4 separate regions of the Homo sapiens genome follow, and all the other regions are linked to region 3. The links come from fine-mapping of genetic effects on gene expression. A gene starts in region 3. Each other region holds a variant in brackets. All regions are shown on one strand. Distances are between the middles of the regions. Region 1 overlaps ARHGAP19 (Rho GTPase activating protein 19). Region 2 overlaps ARHGAP19 (Rho GTPase activating protein 19). Region 3 holds the start of ARHGAP19 (Rho GTPase activating protein 19). Region 4 overlaps ARHGAP19-SLIT1 (ARHGAP19-SLIT1 readthrough (NMD candidate)).

What was found. PIP is the estimated chance that this variant, and not a neighbour inherited with it, causes the effect. A credible set is the group of variants that fine-mapping cannot tell apart.
Region 1: its variant is the best candidate, but not a certain one, in a credible set for the expression of ARHGAP19 in monocytes after Pam3CSK4 (Quach 2016, PIP 0.57).
Region 2: its variant is the best candidate, but not a certain one, in a credible set for the expression of ARHGAP19 in subcutaneous fat (GTEx, PIP 0.51).
Region 4: its variant is the best candidate, but not a certain one, in a credible set for the expression of ARHGAP19 in visceral fat (GTEx, PIP 0.58).

What each region holds. Positions count from the first base shown.
Region 1 is chr10:97,258,517-97,261,198 of GRCh38, forward strand. It overlaps ARHGAP19 (Rho GTPase activating protein 19), which reads right to left. Exons shown (of 12, transcript NM_032900.6): 5 at 886-1,112. It overlaps ARHGAP19-SLIT1 (ARHGAP19-SLIT1 readthrough (NMD candidate)), which reads right to left. Exons shown (of 15, transcript NR_037909.1): 5 at 886-1,112. Among named protein-coding and RNA genes, the nearest start is that of ARHGAP19, 33 kb to the right of the region's middle. The variant C/CTGTTTTGTTTTGTTT (reference allele first, on the strand shown) is at 1,312.
Region 2 is chr10:97,264,703-97,267,384 of GRCh38, forward strand. ARHGAP19 (Rho GTPase activating protein 19) reads right to left here. Exons shown (of 12, transcript NM_032900.6): 2 at 1,158-1,423; 3 at 124-204. It overlaps ARHGAP19-SLIT1 (ARHGAP19-SLIT1 readthrough (NMD candidate)), which reads right to left. Exons shown (of 15, transcript NR_037909.1): 2 at 1,158-1,423; 3 at 124-204. Among named protein-coding and RNA genes, the nearest start is that of ARHGAP19, 27 kb to the right of the region's middle. The variant T/C (reference allele first, on the strand shown) is at 1,653.
Region 3 is chr10:97,291,588-97,294,269 of GRCh38, forward strand. ARHGAP19 (Rho GTPase activating protein 19) reads right to left here and starts at 1,050. Exons shown (of 12, transcript NM_032900.6): 1 at 985-1,050. The coding sequence starts at 1,040. ARHGAP19-SLIT1 (ARHGAP19-SLIT1 readthrough (NMD candidate)) reads right to left here and starts at 1,086. Exons shown (of 15, transcript NR_037909.1): 1 at 985-1,086. RefSeq lists enhancers at 1-620, 621-1,377 and a silencer at 722-771.
Region 4 is chr10:97,211,178-97,213,859 of GRCh38, forward strand. The region is part of intron 11 of ARHGAP19-SLIT1 (ARHGAP19-SLIT1 readthrough (NMD candidate)); the gene reads right to left. Among named protein-coding and RNA genes, the nearest start is that of SLIT1, 27 kb to the left of the region's middle. The variant C/G (reference allele first, on the strand shown) is at 1,026.

The DNA.
Region 1 (2,682 bases), 33 kb before region 3:
GAGGAAGACTCTGTCTCAAAAAAAAAAGGTAAAAGACATAGGTAACATCGCTGGTGTGTGGCTTCCAACCCACCTATCCTGGCTCACAACTCCATCACATAGTAAAACCATATTATAAGTGGGCAGGAATATGAGCTATGTACCTCCAGGTCAACAAGTTGTTTAAAAGACTTTAGATGAGGCTACAGTGAGTAGTGATTGTGTTACTCTCCTCCAGCGTGGGCAACAAAACGAGACCCTGTCTCAAAAAAACAGAAAAAAAGACTTCAGAGAATTTATTTCTCTGTGTTTTTATCCCTCAGGCATTTAAAAAAAAAAAGAGAGTGAGTTTATTTCTCTTGTAAGTCACTGAGAAGACCATGGTCTCCATAAGAAGAAGCAAGTTCAGCTTTATCCAAGGAGACTACATATCTACAGGAAATACAAAAGTCAGGACAAGGCAGGATTGCTCCAAGTGTCATCTCATCTATAAATCCATAAGCTTGGTGACATTATCCCATAAGATCACACAGCTCTATTCTAATTTTATAACATTTGATCTTCAGAAACTAATTTGATTTCCCAAGAAGCCTTTCCTGTTAAGGATTCCACAATGAACAGCCAAAATGAGTATTCTAGTTTATTCAGTAGTTATAATTTCCCACTAAGAGTTTCTACTAATACAATGCCATGTAGGTTTACCAGAGATTGATTTATAAGTGAGGTTAGCAGGAATTGGCCCTCTCAGGTCTGATGACTCTTCAATGAACTAATAAAGTAAGTTCCCAACCTCATAAAGCTGAAGGCTAGACCTTGGACCCTTGATAATCTCACCAATGTACAGCCATAGAATGAGGCCCAGCCCAAGAAAACCAAGCAATCTTTACTCTTCCCGTCAACACTCACATTTTTTGGCCACAGGACATGGGGTGCAAACATAAGGGCAAGGTTATAGGCTGACATCTTGTTCTTGTCTTGTTTCTTTGCTGTCTGGTATAGGAGATCAAGCAATAACTTCAGCAAATTACGATTAGGAGGAGGGAGAATGAGGAAGAGCAACTGGAGAGCCTCAATTTGCCGGTCCTTGTCTGGTATATTGGTCTTGTTTCCTTTATCATCAAACTGCATCAAATCTTGAGGACAAAAGAGAATTTGCAAAGTGGGGAGAAAATATCAGCAAGAAAAATCAGTGCTATCACCATTATCCTCCCCTCAACTCCCATCAAAGAAAGAGGGAAAAAAGATTCAGGCAGAAACACAATTCAAAGACTACAGCAAAACATAATAACAAAATAATGTCAATGCAATTCAACAATAAAAAGATTAAAAAAC[C/CTGTTTTGTTTTGTTT]TGTTTTGTTTTGTTTTGTTTTTTTTGAGACAAAGTCTTGCTCTGTCACCCAGGCTGGAGTGCAGTTACACAATCTCAGCTCATTGCAACCTCCGCCTCCCGGGTTCAAGCGATTCTCCTGCCTCAGCCTCCCGAGTAGCTGGGACTATAGGCACCCGCCACCACGCCCGGCTAATTTTTTGTATTTTTAGTAGAGGCGGGGTTTCACCGTGTTAGTCAGGATGGTCTCGATCTCCTGACCTTGTGATCCGCCTGCCTCAGCCTCCCAAAGTGCTGGGATTACAGGCGTGAGCCACAACACCCGGCCAAAATTTTTTTTAATGTGTACAGGATTTGAATAGACATTCCTTCAGAAGGTATACAAGTGGCCAAGAAGGCTTTGTATGCTCAGTATCATTAGCCATCAAGAAACTATAAATCAGGCCGGGCACAGTGGCTCACACCTGTAATCCCAGCACTTTGAGAGGCCGAGGCGGGCGGATCACAAGGTCAGGAGATCGAGACCATCCCAGCTAACACAGTGAAACCTGTCTCTACTAAAAATACAAAAAAATTTGCCCAGCATGGTGGTGGGCGCCTGTAGTCCCAGCTACTCAGGAGGCAGAGGCAGGAGTATGGCGTGAACCTGGGAGGCGGAGCTTGCAGTGAGCCGAGATCATGCCCCTGCACTCCAGCCTGGGCGACAGAGCAAGACTCCATCTCAAAAAAAAGAAAAAACAAAACAAAACAAAAAACTATAAATCAAAACCACAATGACATACCACTTCATATCCACTACAATGGCTATAACTACAAACAGATTGACAATAAAAAATGTTGGCAAAGATGCAGAGAAAATTAAACCCTCCTATATTGCTGGTGGGCATATAAAATGATATAACCACTTAGAAAACATTTTGGCAGTTCCTCAAAAAATGAGAGTTATCATTTGACCAAGAAATTCCATTCCTCGGTATATACCCAAGAGAAATAAACACATATCCAAGTCAGGCACAGTGGCACATGCCTGTAACCCCAGCACTTTGGGAGGGCAAGGTGGGCAGATCACTTGAGCCCAGGAGTTCGAGACCAGCCTGGGCAACATGGTGAAACCCCATCTCTATATTTAAAAAAAAAAAAAAAAAAAAAAGATCCACACATGCCTTTGATAATGCTACTCACTCCACTTTTCCCCACTCAGATATTTTACAGCTAAAAGAAAAATGAGAATGAAAAATGAGAATGAATGTCCTTATTCACAAGCTGCTCCTTATAACAGGCAGCTCCCAATAGGGTCAGAATTATTGGTTCTTCCCTAACAGACTAAAAAGGTTATCAATGAAAACAGTCCCCTGGATAATGAGAATTTCAAAGGACACTAATAACCATTTG
Region 2 (2,682 bases), 27 kb before region 3:
TTAACACTGGTTAGTTCCTTTGTTGATGGTTAATTGGCACCTACTAACTCAAGGCAGTTAGCTCTCAACAGAAAACAGAATTCTTCATTAAACAAAGAATGATAAAATTTCAAGTAGTCTTACTTTTGTGTAGATACTCAATCAGTTGGTATATCTGGGCAATGCCTTCCTCCGTCAGTGGGGACCCAAATATCACTCCTTTTTCTGAAAAACCATATGATATGACAGGGCTATATTTCACACAAATAGTACAAAATCATCATACCTAAAACCACTCAAGCATCCTATTTTACAATTCAGCAAGCATTTTCACATGGTCAGTAAACAAAAACCTTAGAACTGGAAGTGCACCAGAAAACGCGAGCAGGACAACTCTCAATCAGCTCTCTCTAAGTTCAATATTAGACTGTAGGTTCCCTGAAGGGAAAGACCATCTTCTTATTCAAGTAAGAAGCATATATCTAGTAAGTAAGGAGATATCTAGCGTGTTAGTATTTAATTTAACAAACAAACAGAAGGCCAGGCATGGTGGCTCACACCTGTAATCCCAGCGCTTTGGGAGGCTGAGGTGGGAGGACTGCTTGAGGCCAGGAGTTTGAGACCAGCCTGGGCAACATAGTGAGACCCCATCTCTACAAAAAATAGAGAACAGTCAGGCATGGTGTCATGCACCTGTAGTCCCAGCTAGTGGGAGGCTGAAACAGAAGGAGAGTTTGAGCCCAGGAATTCAAGGCTGCAGTGAGCTATGATGACACCACCACACTCCAGCATCGGCAACAAAGTGGGACCCCATCCCTTCAAAAAAAGAAAATTCAAGCATTCTGTTCTATAGTCTCTAGCTATGTAACTTTGGTTTTTAAATATTATTTTCACATATTAATAGGGCATGAAAATCAAGATGCCCCGATGACTACCTAAGTTAATCATGTCTTCTCTCAGGGACTGAAAATATTTGCTTTAGTTTAATTATTTATTTATCTAGACAGTTTTTATAATTTGTATTACTATTACTTAAGGTGTTACTACTTATAAAAACTGAAAAAATGGCCAAAAAATGCTTTAAGTTAATAGCAACTCTTCGGTGAATGTGTAGATGTTGAGAGAGAAGCCCAGGGAGCAGCTGAGGCCTGCCCACCCTTCACAAACACATCTCCTACCCTTTCGCTTGAGAGACATGAGAGACCGGAAGAATCCTGATGCTGGGCCAGCCCCGCCAGGCAACTTAAGGTCCACTTCCCCCATCAGCTGAGCCAACTCAGTTCCAGGTAAATCGATGAGCCTTGTGATATTGCTGACCACCAACTCAGTGAAAATCTCAGGTTTCTCATGTCGGAGTTTCTCCACAAAAAAGTCAGGATTAAAGATAATGGGCTGACCTCGAAGGGAAGAATCATTGCAGATCACAAAACTGCAGATGGCATCACTGAAAAACACAGAAGAAAATCTTTCGGGACATCATTTTTGTATGTTTCTTATGCACTACTCATTGGGTTATTTGGTCCTGACTCCACGCAAAGGCAGAGGTTTCCTTATAGTCAGCTTCCTTTAACTGAGCCAGATGCCCTTGAACACTGTTCCTTATAACCACAAAGCCTCACAGAAGGGAAGGCATTTACAGGTACATAAAACAGTAATTAATTCAGCTTTTCCCA[T/C]GTCCACAAATAGGTTTTACTTTAAAATCCTTCAATTCTGGATGCCTCTGACCCATTCGTCATCATCTAAGTCCAACCTCTGCTCAGACAGGTTCTTCTCTCTAGGGCTCCTGATCTTAGCTGGTTCTCCACTCTTACATTACATTGGGCTATACTCCTGGCAAAGCTCCTTTGAATCTCAGAAATATTTTCTTCCCTGTTCTTTGTTTCCCAATGCCTACTATACCCCTGTATTAGTCCATTTTCATACTGCTGTGAAGAAATACCCAAGACTGGGTAATTTATAAAGAAAAAGAGCTTTAATGGACTCACAGTTCCACATGACTGGGGAGGCCTCACAATCATGGCAGAAGGCGAAAGAGGAACAAAGGCACATCTTACATGGCAGCAGGCAAGAGAGTGTGTGAAGGGTAACTGCCCTTTATAAAACCATCAGATCTCATGAGACTTATTCACGCAGGGAAAAAAACCACCTCATGATTCAATTACCTTCCACCGAGTTCCTCTCATGACATGTGGGGATTATGGGAGCTACAATTCAAAATGAGATTTGGGTGGGGACACAGCCAAACCATATCATTCTGCCCCGGCCCCTCCCAAATCTCATGTCCTCACATTTCAAAACCAATTATGCCTCCCCAACAGTCCCCCAAAGTCTTAACTTATTTCAGCATTAACTCAAAAGTCCACAGTCCAAAGTCTCATCAGGGACAAGGCAAGTCCCTTCTGCCTATAAGCCTGCAAAATCAAAAGCAAGTTAGTTACTTCCTAGGTACAATGTGGGTACAGGCATTGGGTAAATACACCCATTCCAAATGGGAGAAATTGGCCAAAACAAAGGGCTACAGACCCCATGCAAGTCTGAAATCCAACAAGGCAGTAATTAAATCTTACAGCTCTGAAATAATCTCCTTTGACTCCACGTCTCACATCCAGGTCACGATGATGCAAGAGGTGGGTTCTCATGGTCTTGGGCAGCTCTGTCCCTGTGGCTTTGCTGGGTACATCCCCATTCCTGGTTGCTTTCACA
Region 3 (2,682 bases):
CCGGCCCCGTATGATATTTTAAATAACACACTCAACCACGCTCATCTGGGCTCAGGAAGAAGCCGAGTCACAAAGTTATTAGTTTCCCAAGATTCTTGGAATCTCTTATTCGGTACAAATGGAACCAAAAGACGCCAAACCGAAGTATTTTACTGAGTTACACTGAGGCAACGTAAATAAACTCAATCTATTGAATTACACCAAAAACAAAATTGTAATCAATTAAGACAACTTAGGTCTCAAGGCTAAGGCAACACCACCTCGAAATTCTCTCCTGAAAACGCTAAATCTCGGTGTGGCTGTTTAGGAAAGAACATCCTGTGGAAATAAAGTCATGATGTCCTGGACTACAGATCCCTCTCCCATCTGCTCCTTAGCTGTTCTACTAGGAAGAAGAAAATCTATTGCGTAGAGTTGTCATTATCGGCTAAACTCAGTGCTAGCTTTAAATGGATTGTCTTATTCAATCTTGACACTTGGAAATAGGCATCCTCACGTCCCTTTGCAGATGAAGAAACTGAAGTCGAGAGAGGTTTAAAAACTGGCCCAAGGACTCAACACTGTTTCTAATTGACACTCAAATCCTTGCTCGGACCTGAACGCACAAAGTGCCTCGGAGAAGATGTGAAGCGCTGTGTGCAACAGTGAGGAATTCGCTAACCAGCCCTGGACTTCCGTTTCCTCGCCATCAAGAGGTGTCTCGGCGCCAAAGCGATCAGCGCTGCCACCCCCAGCTGGACGTCTGCAGCCAGCGCAGCGGGAGGAGCCCCCTCGGGCACCGGCAGGACCGAGCGGGGGGTTTGGCTGGAGTCCAGCGCCCAGGCCCGACCCCCGCGCCTCAGCCCCCGCAGGCGCGACGATGAGAAACGCCGTGGGAGAAAGAAACAAAGCCCGAACCGTGCGCCTCCGTGACCCAAGGCAAAGGCGGCAGGACTACCAGCCCAAGGCCGCGTTTCCCAGGAAACTGGACCAAACTCAGCTCACCTCCGGCCGGATTCGCGGGCTGGCACCTCCCCTTCACTCTGTGCCTCAGTCGCCATCTTCGTCAGCAAACTTCTTTCACCGCCCCACCTTACGTCCCGCCCCCACATATTTGGATTGGCTAATATGTTTTCACCTCTTCCGTGCGATTGGATGACTCGACCGCCCCTCCTCAACCTGAACCGTTTAATATATTATTGGTCTATTCAAATGACTAACCGTCATTGGTCGTTCCCAGCCCTGGCGGAAAAAGAGGGAGGGGCGGGGAAGAAGACCCAGCCCCGAGGCCTGCCGGGAGTTGTAGTTTCTCATTTTGATGAACCCTTCCGATTCCACAGACCTTTAGGTTCAAGTCAGAAATCACCAGCCTATGCTCAAATTTTGTCCTGATATGTAAATCAGGGAATTATAGAACTGTCAACTTTGAAAGTGACTCATCACTTTCTAAAATGCAAGACTCCGTACCCTATATCTCAGCATCACACAATATACCCAGATAACAAACCAACTCATGTACCCCCTAAATTTAAAATAAAAGTTGAAAATAAATAATTTTTTTTTACAATTTTTTTAATTTTTTTTTTCTGTTGAGACAGGGTTTCACCATGTTGCCCAGGCTGGTCTCGAACCCCTGAGCTCAAGCAATCCTCCTATGTCAGCCTCCCAAAGTGCTGGGATTACAGGCATGAGGCACTGCACCCAGCCATAAATTAATTCATTTAATTTAATGTAATTTAATGCAAGACTCGTTCTCTGTCTTGACCCAGAGATAAATCCCTCAAGTGCAGGCAGGGAGTGGCAACCTAGAAGTACTTGCTTTTAAACGTATAGTTCAAAGCCTTCTTTCTTCAGATACTCAGCATAGCCCTAGCCATAGGTCATTTCTTTCTTCCTTTATTTCTTTCTTTTTTTTTTTTTTTTGAGATAAGGTCTCCCTCTGTCTCCCATGCTGGAGCACAGTACAATATTGCAGCATACCAACACACAGGGCAAATTTTTGTACTTTTTGTAGAGATGGGGTTTCACCCTGTTGGCCAGGCTGGAGTCGGTCATTTCTGCTTCAATACATTCACTCCCTTCCAACTTCCCAGAGAACCCACAGAGTTTGCCTTGTGATATGAACCATGGAACCAAAAGCTGCATGACTTTGTCCCAAACTAAACTTTAATCCTCAATGGTAGGAATAACCATAATTATCCTTGTCCTCCCTGCGGCACACACTTCTCCTAGGGATTAACTGAGGCAACATATGTGAGAACATTGTAAATTTTGAGCATTGTTGTTTTTTGTTTTTCCATATTGTTTTCCTATGCTGGACTTTTCTCGGGAATTTCTGTATTGATCCTTCTGATATCCTGCCACCTGGGGCTCTCCCTGCACTCTGCCTCCTTTTTACTAAACTGTACTGCACATGCTTCACTTTCTGAACTGTCTTAGGGCTTTTGCACATGTTGCTTTTTCTGGCTCGTCCATTTTTCCACTTTTTTGGCTTTCAGGTCGAAGCTTAAATGTCACTGGCTCAAAGATCTTCCATGACCCCCATTGTATAAATCAATTCCCTCAGTAAACTTTCACAAAGAACTCTGTACTATTCTTTCACAGTTCATATCACAACTCACAATTACATAGTCATTTGTGTGACTATTTATTTCATGTGAGGGTTCCCAGCTAGGCTTCCTGCCACAAGTGGGCAGAGACTAT
Region 4 (2,682 bases), 80 kb before region 3:
AGAGCTAATCAAAATGGCAGAAAAACTAGAGTAGGCAGCCTCCTGGGGGCACTCTCAGAGGGTCTGGATTTATTTCCCTTTTTCCCCTTTGGCACTATGCTGCAGGTGTGTGGCCCAGGCAATCAGCCCTCCTAATTGTGGAGGACCAGCTCCAGCTGCCGCCCTCCTGGGCCCCTGCCCGCCTCGGCGCCCACTGTGTGCACAGCACCAGGCGCCAGCTCGTGAGCTTGCTCTCATCCTGTGGGCCAAGGCCCAATCCCACCTTTCTGCCTGGGGGTCTTCCCAGCCACACCAGCCCCTCCACTTCCCGCAGTGGGCGGCCTCCCTGTATCCACACCCACCACAGGGCACAAACCGCACACCCACTGCCACCTCTGCATCAGTGGTTCTGTGTCATGCTGGACCAACAGTATCAGCATCAGCTGGGAACCAATGAGAAATGCAAGTTCCTGGGCCTCAGACCTGCATCAGAGACTCCAGGGGTAAGGCCCGGCCATGCTTCAGAAAGACTTCTAGGTGACTTGGCTGCCTGGTCAGTTTGAGAACCAGTGCCCTATCAGCCCTCACAGCCGCCGGGCGCGGTGGCTCACGCCTGTAATCCCAGCACTTTGGGAGGCTGAGGTGGGTGAATCACGAGGTCAGGAGATCGAGACCATCCTGGCCAACATGGTGAAACCCCGTCTCTATTAAAAATACAAAAAAATTAGCCGGGCGTGGCGGCGGATGCCTGTAGTCCCAGCTACTCGGGAGGCTGAGGCAGGAGAATGGCGTGAACCCGGGGGGCAGAGTTTGCAGTGAGTCGAGATCGCGCCACTGCACTCCAGCCTGGGCAACAGAGCAAGACTCCGTCTCAAAAAGAAAAACACAAAACAAAACAAAAACACAGCTTCCTTTGCTCTCCCCTCTGCTCCCCTCCCACCCCCTCCGTCAGTGGAGCCCCTATTCGGTTGTGGAGGAACTCCTGTGCCTAAAACTACCCTGTCATCTTCCCCTTCACCATTTCGCCCATGGTAATCTTCACCAAA[C/G]TTTAGCAAACTTTCAGTAATTTTATCACATATGCAGGCCACTTTTCTATTTCTTCCTCAACATTTTAAATTTGATACAAATTCAAATACACACTTTAGGTGGGCACAGTGGCTCATGCCTGTAATCCCAGCATTTTGGGAGAGCAAGGCAAGAGGATTACTTGAAGCCAGGAATATGAGACCAGCCTGGGCAACATACCAAGACCCCATTTCTAAAAAAAAATTTTAAAATTAGCTGTGCACTGTGGTGTGTGCCTGTAATCGCGGCTACTCAGAAGGCTGAGGCAGGAGGATTGCTTGAGCCCAGGAGTTAGGGGCTGCAGTGAGCTATGATGGCACCACTGCACTCTAGCCTGGATGGATGACAGAGACTTTGTCTCTAAAAAACAAAACAAAACAACCCCAAATATACACTTTAGCCTGGTCCTAAAGAATCTAGAAATTCAGACTTAACATATAAGTTATATTTTTCTATCACATATTAAACACTATTAAAGACTGTTCATCACCAGGCATGGTGGCTCACACCTGTAATCCCAGCACTTTGGGAGGCCGAGGCGAGTGGATCACCTGAAGTCAAGAGCTTGAGACCAGCCTGGCCAACATGATGAAACCCCGTCTCTACTAAAAATATAAAAATTAGCAGCTGGGCGCGGTGCCTCACACCTGTAATCCCAGCACTTTGGGAGGCTGAGGTGGGCGGATCACCTGAGGTCAGGAGTTTGAGAACAGCCTGACCAACATGGAGAAACCTGTCTCTACTAAAAATACAAAATTAGCCTGGCGTAGTGGCACATGCCTGTAATCCCAGCTACTCGGGAGCTGAGGCAGGAGAATCGCTTGAACCCAGGAGGCAGAAGTTGCGGTGAGCCAAGATCGTGCCATTGCACTCCAGCCTGGGCAACAAGTTGTGCCTATAATCTCAGCTACTTGGGAGGCTGAGGCATGAGAATCACTTGAACCCAGGAGGCAGAGGTTGCAGTGAGCCAAGATCGTGCCACTGCACTCCAGCCTGGGGGATAGAGCAAGACTCTGTCTTTAAAAAAAAAAAAAAAAAAAAACAAAACACCTGTTTATCCAAAGTACTGTCTAGAAGTCATTTTGGGGAAACGATGCCTGCAGTGTAGCCTGACTCTCTCACAACACACTCTATCCTACCCTTTCCTGTCTACCCCTCAGGGCTTCCATTTCCCTCCTCCTCTCATCTGCAGCCCCGACTCTTGACAGCCCTACCTTCCTGGACCATCCAGCACCTCCCTTCCATCAACCCCCCACCCAAGACTCTGACATCCCTGACGACTCCCTGTGAAACATCACCAGCTAAATAAATACACACGGAATGAATGAACTCTGGGCCCTCAAAACATCCACCTCTGCCCCACAGCGCCCCAAGCCCCCGTCCTTATGTAACTCGTCTCTAAGTAACAGCTCCAGGAAGTGTCCCTGGACCTCCCGTACACATCTTTCCGGGCCTCCGCCCACCCACCCTTCCACCTTACTTTCCCACCCTCACCAAAGGCCTCGTATGTGCCAGGCATTGCACTAGGTAGTGTGGAAACAGAATATAAAGAACAGCTCTGGCCTTCAAGGAACTCAGATTCCCATAAGCCAGAACCAGTCTTCTTATTCCTGCTATTGCTCCCAGAAACATGTCACA